Linked DNA regions of Homo sapiens: region 1 is linked to region 2. Evidence: fine-mapped expression QTL. Tissue or cell type: monocytes. Region 2 holds a variant in brackets; the other region holds the start of a gene. All regions are shown on one strand. Distances are from middle to middle.

Region 1 (8,092 bases), 160 kb after region 2:
CCAGAAAGCCACCACCAGATCCCAATGCTCAGCTCCAGGAACCCCTCCAGGTCTGAACAGCTGCTCTGTGTTTATCTGTTCCTCTTGGAGGCTGGGTGTTTTCCATGGGGCGTGTAACCCACTTCCCCATCAGACTGTGAAAAGCTGGGCCGTCCTTCTTGCCTCAGTCTTTCCTTTTCTCTCAGATTGACCGATTGGGTCCTAAATCACCTGCAGTGCCTTGGTGATCAGGAACAGCAGATGGCAACTAGTATATGGTGCATGTCCATGGTGAGGTCAGGCACTGGGTAGACACTACCCCAAATTATCTCAGGCCAACTTCCCAAGAGCCCTGTGAAGTTACAGGTGAGGAGACTGAGGCTCAGAGTGACAGCCCAAGGTTGCACAACTAGGAAGTGCCACAGGTAGGATTCAAGCACTGATCTGCCCAACACCATACTCATTCCATAATGGAACTGGCCCTGAAAAAGACCCTTGCAGGCTGTGGCTGCACATTCTCATTCCTGTGGGGCTGGAGTCACAATCTAAGGGCTGAGAAAAAAAAAAAAAAAGAAGGGCACAGAAATGAATGAGTTTGGGGCCAATTCCTAAGCATGTAGCTCCCAGGACCAAGAATAAAATCTGGGATGATCTAAACAGAGGAAGAATATATTATGTCCACAAGGTCAACCCTTAATTTATTACCCTAAGCATTACTGGGGACCAGATACCAGCCTGAAGTTGCTCTACTCCTCCTGCCTCACAGTGACCCGCCTGCGTTGCCCACCATGAACTCACCTGCAGGGCACATGGTAGATGTCTCTACAGTGAGGCAGTCCTAAAGACAACCCTGTACTGCTCTGTCACCATGGAACAGGGCTGAGCCTGGCCTTCCTGCCCGGATTCTAATTGAAGAGAAGGGCCCCACCTTATATCCACATCCTCCTTTGGAGCTAACCTGACCTGCATTGCCCTAGCTCTGCCCTGTGCCAGCTGCGAGACCCTAAGCAAGTTGGTGAATTGCTCCAAGTTGCAGTTAATTCATCTGTAAAACAGAATCCAAAAACCTACCCCACATTAGGGTACATTCAATGACCTGCAGGAATCACACGAAAACACGAGTGTTAAGTATGTTTCACCATCGATGGTAACTGCTAAACTGGCTATTATTTGCATTCCCCAAAGAGTCCTGCAGAGGATCAGAACATTCATGATTGGTATTTGTCTGAAATAAACAATCAGGAAATAAAACAACTGTGAAAGTGCAATACCTCCCAAATCCAAATAGATACAATTTCTTGTTTGTTTTAGATAAACGAGCTTTTCTCTACCACATGAATTGATATATACCTATACCTGCCTGTGAGCACAAAGAACCCGGTGGACCTGAATTCAAATCTTTACTGAAAAACTTTCAAACGAAGGAATCTGCATTCTGCATCCAGCATCATCAGGACCATTTTCAAGACAAGCGGTCAGAGGCCAAAGCCAGTTTACCTAGGGTCTCCCCAGGCACAGCTCAGAAAGCCAGGAAAGGAGCCTAGCTTCATGCCAGGGAGCCTGACCTTAGTAGCAGCTGCCTGCCCTTCTCAACCCCACCCCAAGCAGGGGCCTGGCAGAGAAGAAGGAAGCCAGGGCTGAGTGCCATCCCCATGATGGAAGCTACTTGCGTGCCTTCATGAACTGACCGAAAGCACAGGACCCTTCGTGTTCAGGCAGCTCCCCCTCCCCGTGGGGATGAGCAAACCCTTTGCAGAATGTCCTGAGAGAACCTTTGCAGTGTGTTCCCAGCACTCTGGAGCCAGCAGAGCTCCTCCTGCGTGGGCCCCAGGCCTCTCATCGGCTAGCTCTGGCTAACACGCACATCCCGTAAAACCTCTCTGCTCTGCAATTTACCAAACCACAGACTCAGAATTCACCATCAGCAGAGGAAAGGCTGGAAGGAGGCTTGCTCCTCCAGTGTAGAGGGTTTCCAGAACACAGGCAATGGGTGCAGCACGTCCTGCCAGCTGACCACACCAGAGGGCCTTACTCACAACACTTGAGCTTTTGGTGTGTGGTATTCACCGTGCAAGGGCCAGGAGAGGAAGAGGCTGCAGCCTCCCCAAACCCGCTCCTCCTGCCCCTGTCTGTCCCACCAGGCCCTTTCTATTGCTTTCTTTCCCCCTTTCAATTATTGGATATGCTTATGTTATGTATTAATATATACAATGCCCCAAATGGGTAGAAACTTTTTGACCACCAGTTATTTGTCCTCTTAGCCAAACCCAACTGGACTTAGGGTACATGCAATGAAAAAAACCCAGCTGTGAGCAGCTGTGTTGCAAGTTACTTTACCCAATCTGGCTCTCCATTTCCTCATCTGTAAAATGAAGGAGTTGAGCCAGATGAGTCTTCGGGTCTCTGCCCGTTCCACAATTCCACAACATGTAACACTTTCTCCTCTCAGTGTTTTCCAGAACTCTAGTTCAGAACTCTGCATGGCCCCATCTGTTCAGTGACATCACTCCCTGCCCCCCCAAACATAATGTCATCGATTCTTACTCGGGAAGCGGAGATGTCCCGGGAAACACTTTGTCTGTAAAAAGGAAGGAAATGATCATTTCGAGGGAACTGGACAGGACTTCTTTTGTGTTTTTCACATAGAACAAGTTATTATCAATCTTAAAACCCAAAATCTTTCTTCCTTTTTGCCAGACCATTAATAGCTGCTTTTCAAAAATACTTTCTTAGTCAGAATCTCACCAATAATAAGCTACCATTTAATAAGAGCTTACTGCGTGCCAGGAACTGGGCTAAGTGCTTTACATAGATGATCTCATTTAATTCTCCCAACAAGTACATACTATTATTATCCTTACTTGAAATTGAGTAAACTGAGGCTGGGGGAGGTTTAAATAACTTGCCAAGGTGGCACAGCTAGTTACTGGCTGCATGCCAGGCTTTGAGCAAGACCGTCTAACTTCAGAACCCCAGCACGCAATCTTGCCTTTCAATCCTGTCTGCAGTGGGCCCCGGTTCTAGTTTGTTACCAGTGTGTCCTGCATCTGCAACCTTGGGCACCATCGGTGGGAGCTGAAATGTGATGTTTCATTTAAAATCCAGAGTTGGAAACGCACCTGCCTGGGTCTCAGAGCAGAGTGCCATCTGTTGAATGCAGTGCCAAGCTCAGCTGAGGACTACAAATGAGAACCCTTAAAACTTAGCCTGCAACATTTGAGAAAAATAAACCCTGGGATATACAAAGGGACATCTGTCCACAGAGCAGGTTGACCACCTGGTGACCCAAGCCCTCCAAAAAGAGCTTTCTTGTAACAGCAGCAGAAAATGCTTGCTGGACCAGATGACACAAAAGAAACAACTCTCTAAGGGTGTCAGGGACTGGACCCGACAGGCACCCACCTCCCTGCCTAGTCAACCTGCCTCCACATTTACCTCCTCCCCATATGAGCCCAGCCGCATTTGCTCAGCTGTAAAGAAACTCAAAGTTCAGAGCTACACTGGTGACAAAGGCAAAAAGAGTAGCCCGAGGCTGACATTGCCACAAACCCCAGTCCCTTTGCAACAGTGGAAGAAAAGGCACTTCAGAGATCAATGTACAATCCAGGGCAGCAACCAGCGCCTGTTTTAACTGTTAAGATTAATGCTTTGAGCACTGGAACTGCTCCTCTAAATACCCAATTTGCAAATAACATGCAGTCCTCTGTGCTTGGGTCTCTTCTATCTCAAGTACAGGAGCACAGACGCTCAGAGGGGTCAAGGACACCGTGTTTACTTCCTAAGGTGTGAGGGATGGGAAGACAGGACCGGCTGAGATGAAAGGGGAACTGTCACATAGGCTCTGGAGCTGCCCCAGTCAACCTTAACCCCTTCTCATTAAAGTTTGGGGGAGGAAGGGGGAGGGGCGGTTCCTCGGAGACCACAGCAAACATTCGCCTCCTCGTGTCTGGAGATGGAGCATCACTTAAGAGGAAATGAACCCGGTTAAGGGTCACGTCCAGAGGAGGGATAAAAGGAAAAGCCACAATTCTCCTCACACCGACGGACACAATGGCTTTATGAGGGAAATCAAAGCTTAGCGCGGAGGGTGGAGGTTGGGCAAGGGGGCGGCGGCTTCCTTCTGCCCCCAGCCCCAGGCCTAGGAAGGCAGAGACAGAGCTGGCGTGGGAGGCAGGGCGCGAGGCTTCCTTCTCCAGGGCGAGCTCTGAAAGCATCTCGGGCTGTGTGAGCGTGAGCGCCCAGGGCCCCTGGGGAGGGCCGAGGAGATGCGCTTTCCCGACGGGGCTGCTCTGTGAGGGGTTGACGAAAGCTCCCCCCACCATCCATCAAAGGCGGACAGATGACTTCACCGTTGTAACAGACAAGGGCAGCCACTTGCCAATTCCAATGCCAAAAAAAGAAACCGGGGGGGCGGGGGTGCGAAGGAGGAAGGACAGAAGAGGCTTCCCTGGAGATCACAGCCCTGCGAAGAAACTCCACGGCTGCTGGCTGCCCAGTGGGCGCTTAGCTTCGCGACCTCACAGCTGGGAGGGGCAAGGGGCCATCCGGGGCCCTCCCGGGACCTCGGGCCACCCCCAGCAGGGTCGGCGGGGGCTGTACTCACGTAGTGCTTGGAGGGGTTCCTCCGCTTCTCCACGTCCACCACGGTGGCATCCTGCACGCAGTAGGCGAGCATCTTCCCCCACAAAGCGAGTGGCGCCCCCGGCGGCGTCACCTTCTCATCCCGGCCGGGCTCCGGCTCCTTCTCCAGCTGCCGGGGTCCCGGGGCCGCCCGCCACCCCGGCCCGGCGCGCCGAACGCTGCCCGGACTCCCGGCGCCCACAGGTCCGGCCCAGGGACGGGGGAGGGTCCCGGAGGGCGCGCGGGCTCCGTGCGCCCCGGGGGACTCCCCGCCGGCCTGCCGCGCGCCCCTTCACTCCCGCGCGGCCGCCGCGCTGCGCTCGCCCGCTCGCTCTCTCCGCCGCCCGGTGGGTCCGGCGGGAACTGGCGGAGCAGAGGAGGGGCGGGGGTGTGTCCCGTCGGCGAGGGGACGGGGCGGGGGCCCCGGAGCCTGCTGTCAGCGTCCTGGGGAGGGGCCGGCGGCTCCCCTTCGCCGCTCTCCGGCTCGGGCTCCGGGGGGATCGGCGCTGGCGGAGGCTGTGGGCGCAGGAGGCGGAGGCAGGGCCTGGCAGGCAGGGAAGGGAAGGGAGGGAGGGGAGAGAGGGGAAGCGCGCGGGGAGGGGCTCCGGGCCGGGGGAGGGGCTCGGGGCGACGGGGAGGGGGCTGCAGCCCGGCCCCAGTGGCAGGGGCGGGCCGACGAGCCCCCACCCGAGCCCAGCGCGCAGCCAGCGGCCTGGCGCAGCACCGGGCTAGTTCGCTAGGCACAAAAACTCAGGGTGGCTTCGGGGGGAGAGGGAGCGGGGAAAGTGAGCCCCGCGCGCCCCCATCCTGGCTTTCCGCCTCGGAGCGGATTTGTGCCTTTTTGTCCCCACTTTTATGTCCCCCTACAACTTCCACCCCCAGATCTCTTTAATGAGAAGTAGTTTATTACCCGGCTGTTACTGCCCAGGCCCCCGAGGAGGAGATGGGAATGGGGAAAAGGCCAGCTTTAAATCCTTCAAGCCAGAGCCTCTTTGGACGAACCACCTGACCCTCTGCAGGTCATAAAGGGTGAATTCTCCCCGGAAAAGTGATCGATTCGTTGCCTGAGTCGTCCATCGATCTGGGCTTGTGTAACTACCCTGTGCATCATTTACCAATGACAACGTTACAGACTCTGCATAACACCACTGCCTTAAGCCCAGGGCTCCCCTGGGGACCCTCCCCAAGCTGGCGACAGGGAAAGGAGCATACAATGGTGGGAAAACCCACCCGGTTGGAGGCCAGCTCACCGTGAGCCCCAGGCTCTGGCATTCTCACCCCTCCCTCTAGTCTGGAAAACCCACTTTCCAAGCCACTTGTCCGTGGTCCCTGGACTTGGAGCACAGTTACTACTTAATTCAATGTAGCTTCCCCCCTTCTAGTTCAACATTTTTTTCCCATTCTGCTTTCAAACATTTAAAGGGTAGTGTTTTCACAACTACTCCAGTTGTTACACAATCACAATAAAGCTTTGTGACTGTGGACCAATGTGAAACATCTGAAAAGAGGACAAATAATTTTGTGACCTAATTGCATTAATACTTTCTTCTGCGCGTTCTCTAGACTGTCAGAACCCAGGCACAGATCTAAGGCTTTATTTATTCACATATTTGCTCCATACAGAGTAACCCACTATTCCTCCAACCTTCCTGGGGAAGGGCGCTAGGACACCAAACGATGGCACGGGACAAAGAAAAAAAAAGATGGATGGGCCTAGGGGGCTCAGACTGTGAGAGATCTTGGCACCAGGCCAGAGCTTCTTGGTCAGAGAAGATGACAGAAAACCTTTGTGAATGTTGGAGCAGGAGTCCTGGGGGAAGGTGCACCTGGTAATGTTGCTCAGCTGATGGGAAAATGGGAGGACAGGGCACTACCTCCATGAGCAAGGATTATTCCCTGAAGGGATGAGAGGTAGACCTGGAACGGGCCCTCCATATTGAGCTCCCGAACTTGGGAGGGTGCTGGCCAGCTCCAGGTCCTCTCTGATGATGGATCAAGACAGCCTGTGAGTTTGTGAGGAAGAGATTCATCATGGCTCTCGGATAACTCGTCTTCTGTGGATGGCAAAGTCTTCTGGAAGTGCTAATAAAACCTGAGAAGCCACCAGCGAGGGGAGCTGGTGTTTAGCTGTTGTGGGGGGAAGAAGAGGAGGGGGTTTAGTTTGATTTGGGTCCCCTTGTGAATCAAAGCAGTCAGCTCATCTAAAACAGCACTAGTGGTTTCCTTATTACCCTTCTTTCGGACCCAGATCCACAATGAACACACCAAGCACAATAAATTTGTAGGAGAGAGGGCCCAGTTCTTCCCCACTTCCTAGCGGCCTACAAAGTGGTAGCCTTTCTCCTGCCTAAAAGACTCCCTGCAACTTGACATTTTATAAATTCAGGCCTTTAAGCCTGACTTGAGCATACTCCCAACTTCCCCCTTTGTTCCGTAATTACCTTTATTGGAGGGAGCAACTGAGTGCTCCCCACTCAACCCCATGGTGCCAAGATCTGGGCAGAAGTTATTTCTACCTGTGGGAGAAAAATGTCTTTTCTGTACTGGGGCCGTATGTCCAAGGGGATTTAAGTATGAAATGGTGCAGGCTATCTCTTCTCTGGGTACATTTCAACCTCATGCAGATTTATTTCCCACAGTGCCTTGGGAATTCCTTTCTGTTCAATACACATTTATTGAATGCCTCACATGTGCCTGGCAATCCCCCAAAAATGACAGAGACTGGGGGAAGTTTCCTTGGAAACAAGGACTGTGCATCATTCATTAAATACCCCAACTATGCGTGGCACACAGTAGGTATATAGGATGGCCTGTGTTGAAAACATCTGCTCAAAGAGCTAGTGCTAGAAAGGATTAGAGAAACCCCTATTTTGCCACCTCCGCCCATGAACTGGAGATGACTCCAACCTAAGGACATTGTGTGAGTTAAAAATGACAAAATATAATTGCAAATTTTTTTTTAAGTTTAGGATAAGTAAGGGAAAGAGAAGCCAACATAAAGATGCAAACTGATACCTGAAAATCTGATTTTCGAAAACAGGTAATTGTAGAATGCTTAGAATCAAAGAACTTTCCAACTAGAAGGGACAAGAGAGGTTATTTATTTCTCTTATTTTACAGAGGAAGAAACCAAGGCCAAGAAAAACTAAGCAAGTTGCTTGATGCCACATAGCCAGTTAGTCCAAAGCCCGCTGTCTTTCCCCTCCACATTTATGTGCCTATACTAGGGCAAGAAGAGCTTGTTTAAAGGGCACACTTAGCACACCTGCAGGTCTAGAATGTTGCATTCACTCAAACCCTGGAGTCCCTGGTTCCAGTTCTCCATTCACACAAGCATATGAACTCGTGATGCCTGGACTTCCCAATAAAGAGGACTGTACAATCCTCTAGAGCAGAGGCCGTGTGTGTCTCCATGGTCCTCTGTGTACGTGCAAATTCCATCAGCTCCCCTAAAGCAGAACCCGCCCTACCTCCTCTCCCATGTAGGGTCTTT
Region 2 (8,105 bases):
CGAAGGTTGCCCAATCTGGGGAAGGGCTGTGGTTTATAAGCCCACTGGAAGGAATAAAAACTGCAGCGTGGATGGTGTGGAGGAGAATCTGGGAAACCGTTGCCTTGGAAAGGGACTACAGAAAGGTGGGAGAGCTTCCATTTGCCCCCTCCCCTGGCTCCCACCAGTCAGTCCAGGGAAGGCCTTAACAAAGGCATGCTTGCCCCCCTTGCAGAAGGAAGACTGGGCAGAGACTGAGTCCTAGCTGTGCCCCCCAAAAGCTCAACTGTGCAGGGAATTCCTGAGAGGAGGAGGAGAGTATTAGATCGTAGCTGTGTCCTGCCCAGAAGACTTTCCACTCCCAAGGAGGAAATTAGCTTTTCAGGCCTTTTCACTGAGGGCTACTGGGGAAGGGCAGGGAGTGAGGGCACTGAGGAGCTACCCTCTGCTGTCCCACAATTTTCCTGCTGGTCCTGGCAGGAGAAGCCCAGGACTGATGGCCCACTGACCATCCCCCTGGCTGCCAGTAGCCCAGGCAGGGGTGGCTGCCTCACAGGAATGGCTGCCTTCTCCAGCTCTGAGCAGGTTGAGGCTACCCAGGCTGTTCCTATGAGACAGGGAGTTTGAGACCAGCCTAGGCAACATAGTGAGACCCCCTATCTCTACCAAAAATAAATTAGCTAGGCATGGTAGCAAGCACTTGTACTCCCAGCCACAAGGGAGGCTGAGGTGGGAGGATTGCTTGAAGCCCAGGAGGTCAAGACTGCAGTGGGCTGTGGTGGTGCCACTGCACTCCAGCCTGAGTGACAAGTGAGACTCTGTCTCAAAAAGAAAAAAAAAAAAAAAAGAGTGGGGAAGACACAAAACTCACATGCTTGGAGGGCCTCCTTTGTGCCAGGCCCTGGTTGGTGATTCTCAGCCTGCTATTCAATGGAATCATCTAGAAAGTGGTTAAAATTCAGATGCAGGGCCCCACCCCAACCTACTGCATGGTCTGCATCTCCAACAAACTCCCCTGGGGATTCTGAGGCTGCTCCAGTGTTGCATAATCTCCATCAGGCCTCCAGCCACCCCTAAGAAACATTTATGCTCAGTAAGAACAACGTGCTTGTAGTGCTGAAGGAGCCTCTAGAAAATATCTCTTGGCCTGCCTGTCCTTCAGCCAGAGTTCAGAGTCCTCCCCACCGAGGACTTCCGGGTCCCTCCCTGCAGGGGGTGTGGGCTCTCCTCTTGCAGGTGAGAAGACCAAAGCTTAGAGAAGCCGGACAACTTCCTCAAGGCCATAGTGAGTGGGTGAGACCAGGACTGGGGACCAGAAAACCCAGGCCTTGCTCTGAGGCTCAAGACAAATGCCCACTTACCACCCCTTCCTGGAGTAGTGGATGCAGGAGTAGAAGGCAGAGCCCAGAGGGCCTGATCAGCACATGGGGTTAATGGGGTGGAGGCTGAGGTCCTGGCAGTGGGGGTCACCAGGCTGTGACTGAATGGTGGGAACGAAGAGGAATCCTGAATCCTTCAGGGTGTCTGGCCTGCCCGAGCAGGCGCTGCCCTAATAGGAGACCTTCTGGAAGTTTCCAGTTGGGCATCCTTTAGCAAAGCCATTTCATATTTTTAGCTGCTGAATAGGGTGATAAGCAGTTTAGGTATCCAGTGGCTGGGACTCTCCCATCCCTCACATACGAGGGCAAGACGCAAAGGCAGGGATCCCCCTTCACACCATGACCACTTCCCACTGCCCTATAACCAGTTCCAGTCTGGCAGGACAGCAGGGCCCTCTGCTGGGGCTCAGTTCCCTAACAACTCAAGAACCCCCCCTCTTCCCATCAGTCCCCTTCTCCAATCCACACTCCGTCCTTGCTCCAAGTCTTGCCCTGAGCTGGTGCTGACAGCCCCCACCCTGCCGGTGACTCCACTCCTGGTAGGTCACAGTCTAGCCTGCTTCCGACTTGCTGCTGAATCATATCGGCCAGGGAGCCACAGGAAGAAGAGGAGGGGAGGAAGGGCGGGGCTAGCATCTCCCTCTAGCGTTGCCAGAGGCTAATGTAATTGAAAAGGCCTCCCAAGCTGTGTCCTAAAACAGCTCCCATCAGACCACTCAGCCATTCATTCTCTGCAGCTGGTCCAGGGGTGACTCAAACCACAGGTACAGTGACCCACAGTCCCAGGAAAACAGGGACATGGGACTTTCAGGGCTCAAACTGGACAAACTGGGATGGGTGATCTCCTGTGGTCCACAGGTCTGGCCTGGCTGGGAAAGAGGGGTGGAGTTCCTCCAACCAGCACTCCATCCCTCCCCATCTAAACAAGGACTCCTGGGGCCTCTACTCCCACCCCGCCCCATCCCCGGGTGATACGGTTCCTCTCTTGGCCCCTCCCCATAGGATGATGCAAGCTATGTTTGGATGAGCAGGTTCTGGAGACGGAGGCCTCCAGTTCAAATCCCTGCTGCTTGCAGTGGGGGCAGGGGGGTGCCCTTGATCTACTTTCTTGGCCTCTTGAGCCTCTACTTCTCTATCTGTAGAACGAGGACAATAATAGCACCAAACCCCTGGGGTTTGGGGAAGATGCAATGTACAGTGTGTAGAAAGGGCTTCGCACAGTGGCCGGCACAGAAACTGCTATAAATTGTCTTTGTTGTTATTCTTTCATACCTGGGCCCATCTGACCCACCTCAGTTGCTACACAGGTGGCAAAGACCTGTTTAAACCTGGGTCCTACAGAGCCCCTGAAACAAAAGGAGCTTCTCCTTAAGGACCTCACCACGATGCTGGCAGACAGTGCCAGGCAGGTGTGATTCCAGCCCCACTTTCAGAGTTTTGGGCTTTCGCAAATGCCAGAACAACCACTGGTCTCTGTCTAGCGCCGAGCACCAGGAAGTGTGTTCATCCCTGACCCACAGGAATGGACGCACGCCTCTGGACCCCTCTATTAGGACACATTTAACCTCCCAAGGAGTGGCCAACTCTCAGAGCCCCAAAACCAAGAGATGTAAAGGGCTTGCATTTTTATGCTAATGTAGACCCGAAAGGGTTTTTCTTTTTTCCTTTCATTTTATCTTGGCCAGACACGCTGTGCTCCCTCCCCGGATGCTCTAGTGAAATGGCTGGTGTTGGAGACTGCACAGGGAGAGGCTGGTGGGGGCAGGAAAGGCACTGAACAATTCACATGTGTTGTTCCCCTGTTTTGACACATGGCTCCCCACACTCTGCCTTCCCCTTGAAAACTCCCAGGATTTATTCTTTGGTGTTCTGAAGTAGGCAGAGCAGGTGCTCACCCATTTCATGGATGAGGAGATTGAGGTCTGAGGCTTCAGTGGCTGGCCCAGGCTCCTGAAGCTAAACAGACAGCCCTGACCCACAATGCTCCAAAGGGGCCACGCTGAGGCCCACTAGGGATTTGGCCACAAGGAGAGGTCACACCAGCAGCGGGCAGCAGGCCCTCGCTGGGGAATGGAGATTGCCATCCTGCCGTTCAGAGTTCCCAGAGTGAGAGGTGAAGCCAGGAAGAGCCACTGAGGCACGGGAGAGAGAGGAAAGGGGGCTGGGCCTGGCTGGGCCGGCTCTGTGGAAGGGTGCTGAGTACCTGCCAGGTGGAGTTCTGCTGAATGCTGCAGGGTTGTACCCTCCACTGCCCGCCACACCCCTCACCACTCTCCCTCCCACTGGCAAGTGCCTTGGCAGAGAAGGACACACACACAAACTTCCAGCCTGATGTTCTCACCCTTCTGTCTGCCAGCTGACATTGGCTGCTGGGCCCAGGATGCCTGTCTGCGGGGCCTACAGCCACTGGGAACTGCTCAAGAGGCCGGCTGGGCTGCCAGACAGCTGACTTGGGGGTGACCTTCAGAGCCCAGCAGTCACTGGGGACATGGGCACTATCTAGAATATGAGGGCTGGAGAAGATGCAACCTTGGCCAGGGGAGTGACGTGGGGCTCTTGAGGTACATAATGATTTTGACTGCTGTTATCAACCTAAAAGCACTTTTTAAGCTCTCGCTGTAGGCAACCTCATTAAGGCCTGTGCAGGCAGGCAGAAGAGATATATGTGACATAAGTCCAACGAGAAAGCCAACATTCTCAGACAATCCACGCTGAGAATTACAGGAGGGGTTACACTCAGTGCAGAGAAAAGAGAGGTCCTGGGGGCTACAGAACATCCCAGGTAGCTTCCTGGAGGAGGAGGCCTTAAAGGACAAGGGGGTTTGGATCCATAGAGGGATGCAGGGGGAAAGCTCTACAAGCAGGAGCAAGCAGCTCCAAACAGTTGTGGACTGGGCAGTGAGGGTAGTGGGTGGACGGGCCAGGAAAGGCAAGGCTGAGCAGGGCTTTGATGTCTGGCTGTGAAATCCAGAAGTTTGCAGAATTGGGGAGTGATTTGGTCAGATCCTGGCTGGAGGAAAATTTTGTTAAGAGGAGAGGTTGACAGCTGGGGGTTGGGGGCAGGAGAGGGGCTGTCAAAGTCCAGTGCTGAATGTCCACAGACCCGGGTTCTGGGCCCAGCTCTGCCCCCTCAGGGGCTGGTGACCCTGGACAAGCCACTTCAAACTAGTGCTTTTCAAATGACAGGCAGTGACCCATTAGTGAGTTTCAGAATCAATTTAATGGTCCCAATGAGCATTTTAAGAAGAACAGACTAGAAATGATCAGCGAGTCACCCCTGGCAAGGCTGTTTTGTG[G/A]CACCTGCATCAGATGTCTGTCTGCGTATCGAGCTGCAGTGTGATATTTCCCACTGTGGCAGGAGCCCTCGGATTCCCCAGTCCTAACAGGAGGCTACTCTGAGTGTCCTCACAGGGCTATTGTGAGAATTCGAATTATCTGTGAAACCTCCATAGTGAGATGGAGCATGTTCTTCCAGAAACCAAGTGAGGAAGGTCTGAGCAAAGGGCTGGGCGAAGGGGCTTTGGGTCACTGAGGTCTGGAGAGTTGGGGTTTTTTTTCCACCCCTTAGCCCCTAGCTGGGTTTTTGTTCTGGCTTTTGAGAGCCTTTGCACGGAATGGCCTCCAGAGGCAGCAACCTCCAGGCAAGACAGACAGAGGGGCCTGCAGGCCATTCTCTGCCCCCATTTGCTCCCTGATCTAAATCGTGGCACTGAGGGCCCTTGTGTTTAACAAGAATCTGTCCTTTCTCCGCAGGGCCTGTGTTTTCCAGGGTTCTGAGAATGGACCCCATTGTGACCATGTGGCTTGTCCAGAGGGGCCGGAATTCCTGCCCTGGGTGAAAAAGCTGAATTCCTGCGGAGAGAAGGGGTCTTGGGGCTCCCCAGGCTGCATCCCAGAGAGGCCAGATGCTATGGCCATCATAGACCCCAGAACCCCGCCCCCCAGGCATTTTGTCTCCTGAACATCCCAGAGGGTCTCTGCTGCTGCCCTGTCCACAGCAAAAGAACAAAGCACTGTCTGTCTGTCTCCTCTGACTTGTTCCACTATTCTGGGCAAAGGCCCTAAGTGTGTCTTCAGCCACAGGACAAGTTTTACCATGTCCAGGCCTCAGAGCAGGGAGTTAAAAGGGCAGGTGGGTTAGAACCCTGGTTCAGCCACCTAGTGCTTTGTGATATAAACAAGTGACTTCACCTCTCTGTACCTTCGGTTGTAAAAGGGGGTTAAAATAGTTGCTATCTTACAGAGCTGTCGTGGGGATTACATGGGATAATGTGCAAAGCTCTTAAATGGCATCTGGCCCATGGAAAGGACCCGTAGCCCAATAGCCTGGGTTCACAGGGGGCTAGACTAGGAGTGTGGATGGTGGCCGCAATGCAGGAGGTGCTGACTGCCTACCTTCTCAGTGTGGCCTGTGTGAGACCCTGGCTCTGTCACTCAGGGCACTGATGCAGGACCATGATGACAGACAGGCCTGGGTTCCCATCAGGTGCATTCCAAGGAGTCCCACCTAGATGGTGACACTGAGCAGCAGTCCATGGGAGTGGGAGGAGGCAGGGTTAGGGGAAGTGGGGAGGATGGCAGGAATACACAGTTGATTTCTTAGAGGGCAAAATGGGGCAGGGGATTGCCAGTTCAGCCCACTGCCATGGAGTGCTAGGAGCTCCTCCTCAGGCCACCTGAGATCCTGCTCCCTGTGTAAATGCCAGACTGTTCTTGGCTATGGGGGTTCCCTGGACTTCCAGGGGCTACATGCCAGACCTAGGGAACCATGGGAGGGGGAGTGACAAAATGGGGTGATGGGGTTCAACAATGAAGTCCCTGAGGAGAAGGTCAAGGAGGATATCCTATATTTAAAGACCTTCCCTGACTCTCTCCAAGTCCATCCATCATCCATCCATCCATCCATCCACCATCCATCCATCCATCATCCATTTACCATCTATCCATCTATCCATCCACCATCCATCCATCCATCCATCCACCATCCATCCATCCATCCATCATCCATCCATCCATCCATCATCCATTTACCATCTATCCATCTACCATCCAGCCATCCATCATCCATCCATCATCCATCCACTATCCATCCATCCATCCATCCATCCATCCATCCACCATCCATCCATCCATCCATCATCCATTTACCATCTATCCATCTACCATCCAGCCATCCATCATCCATCCATCATCCATCCACCATCCATCCATCATCTATCCATTCATCCATCCATCATCCATCCATTCATCCATCCATCATCCATCCATTCATCCATCCATCCATCCACCATCCACCCATCATCTATCCATTCATCCATCCATCATCCATCCATCATCCATCCATCCACCATCCATCCATCCACCATCCATCCACCATCTATCCATTCATCCATCCATCATCCATCCATCATCCATCCATCATCCATCCATCATCCATCCATTCATCCATCCATCCATCATCCATCCATCCACCATCCATCCATCCACTACCCATCCATCATCTATCCATTCATCCATCCATCATCCATCCATCATGCATCCATCATCCATCCATCATCCATCCATCCACCATCCATCCATCATCTATCCATCCATCCACCATCCATCCATCATCCATCCATCCATCATTCATCCAGCCATCCATCCATCCATCATTTATCCATCCATCATTCATCCAGCCATCCATCCGTCCATCATCCATCCAGCCATCCATCCACCATCCATCATCCATCCATCTATCTTCATCCAGTCATCCATCTGTCCATCATCTATCTACCATCTATCCATCCACCATCCATTTACCATCTATCCATCTATCATCCATCCATCCATCCACCATCCAGCCATCTATCATCCAACCACCATCCATCCATCCTTCATCCAGCCATCCATCATCTATCTACCATCCATCCAACATCCATCCACCATCCATCCATCCATCCATCTATCCATCCACCATCATCCATCCACCATCCATCATCCATCTATCCATCCACCATCATCCATCCATCTATCCATCATCCATCCACCTATCATCCAGCCATCCATCCATCATCCATCCATCATTCATCTACCATTCACCCATCATCCATTCACCATCCATCCACCATCCATCCATCCATCATTCATCCACCATCCATCCACATCTTGACTGAAGGTCTGTTGTAGACCCAGTCTTGTGTATGAAGTAAGAGAGTGGCAGAAGACACACTGTCCTGCCCTCTTTTTCATTTTTTTGTCCATCTAGCTGGAAAGAGATGGCAAACACCCACGAAAAGACAACATACAAGTTCCCTTGTGATCAGGTGCCCCAAAGCTTGGTCAAAGGAAACACTGTATAGAAATTTCCAGGACAGGGAGATCAGAGTGGTCTGGGGTGGTCAGGGAGGGCTATGTGGAAGATGGGGCACTAGAGCTAGCCCTTGAAAGATGAAGACTGTTTAAAAAGAGCAGAAGCAGGAAGGAGATTTGGGGTGGAAGGGATGGTGTGAGCAACGGTGCAGGGGCAGGAACAGATGTAAGCCTGTGTGTGTGCGTGTGTGTGTGTGTGTGCATGCTGGGTGCGGAGGGCAAGAAGGCTGTATGTCTTGGGGGAGCAGGACAGGCAGCTGGGGCTGGACTGAGCCCCAGAGGAAGCAGCTCAGATTTTAGAAGGAAGTTGCTGAGAACAACCCAGCGGCAGTATTCCTAAAGAGAGATTCTCCCTGAAGGCTGTGGCACCAGCTCTGTGCCTGAGGATCACATTTC

Which allele goes with the higher level. Positions count from the first base shown, and alleles are read on the strand shown. Sizes are in standard deviations (SD) of each study's normalised expression.
With allele A in place of G in region 2, the expression in monocytes of the gene that starts at base 4,964 in region 1 is higher (moderate effect, 0.41 SD a copy in CEDAR).

The links. PIP is the estimated chance that this variant, and not a neighbour inherited with it, causes the effect.
Region 1: SH3PXD2A starts here. The variant in region 2 is fine-mapped to the expression of SH3PXD2A in monocytes (CEDAR, PIP 0.95).

The regions. Positions count from the first base shown.
Region 1 is chr10:103,850,613-103,858,704 of GRCh38, forward strand. It overlaps SH3PXD2A (SH3 and PX domains 2A), which reads right to left and starts at 4,964. Exons shown (of 15, transcript NM_001394015.1): 1 at 4,583-4,964. The coding sequence starts at 4,654.
Region 2 is chr10:103,694,704-103,702,808 of GRCh38, forward strand. All of the region lies in intron 5 of SH3PXD2A (SH3 and PX domains 2A), which reads right to left. Among named protein-coding and RNA genes, the nearest start is that of SH3PXD2A-AS1, 48 kb to the right of the region's middle. RefSeq lists enhancers at 1,007-1,753, 1,318-1,427, 1,863-2,007, a silencer at 1,638-1,697 and a cis regulatory region at 1,930-1,940. The variant G/A (reference allele first, on the strand shown) is at 4,655.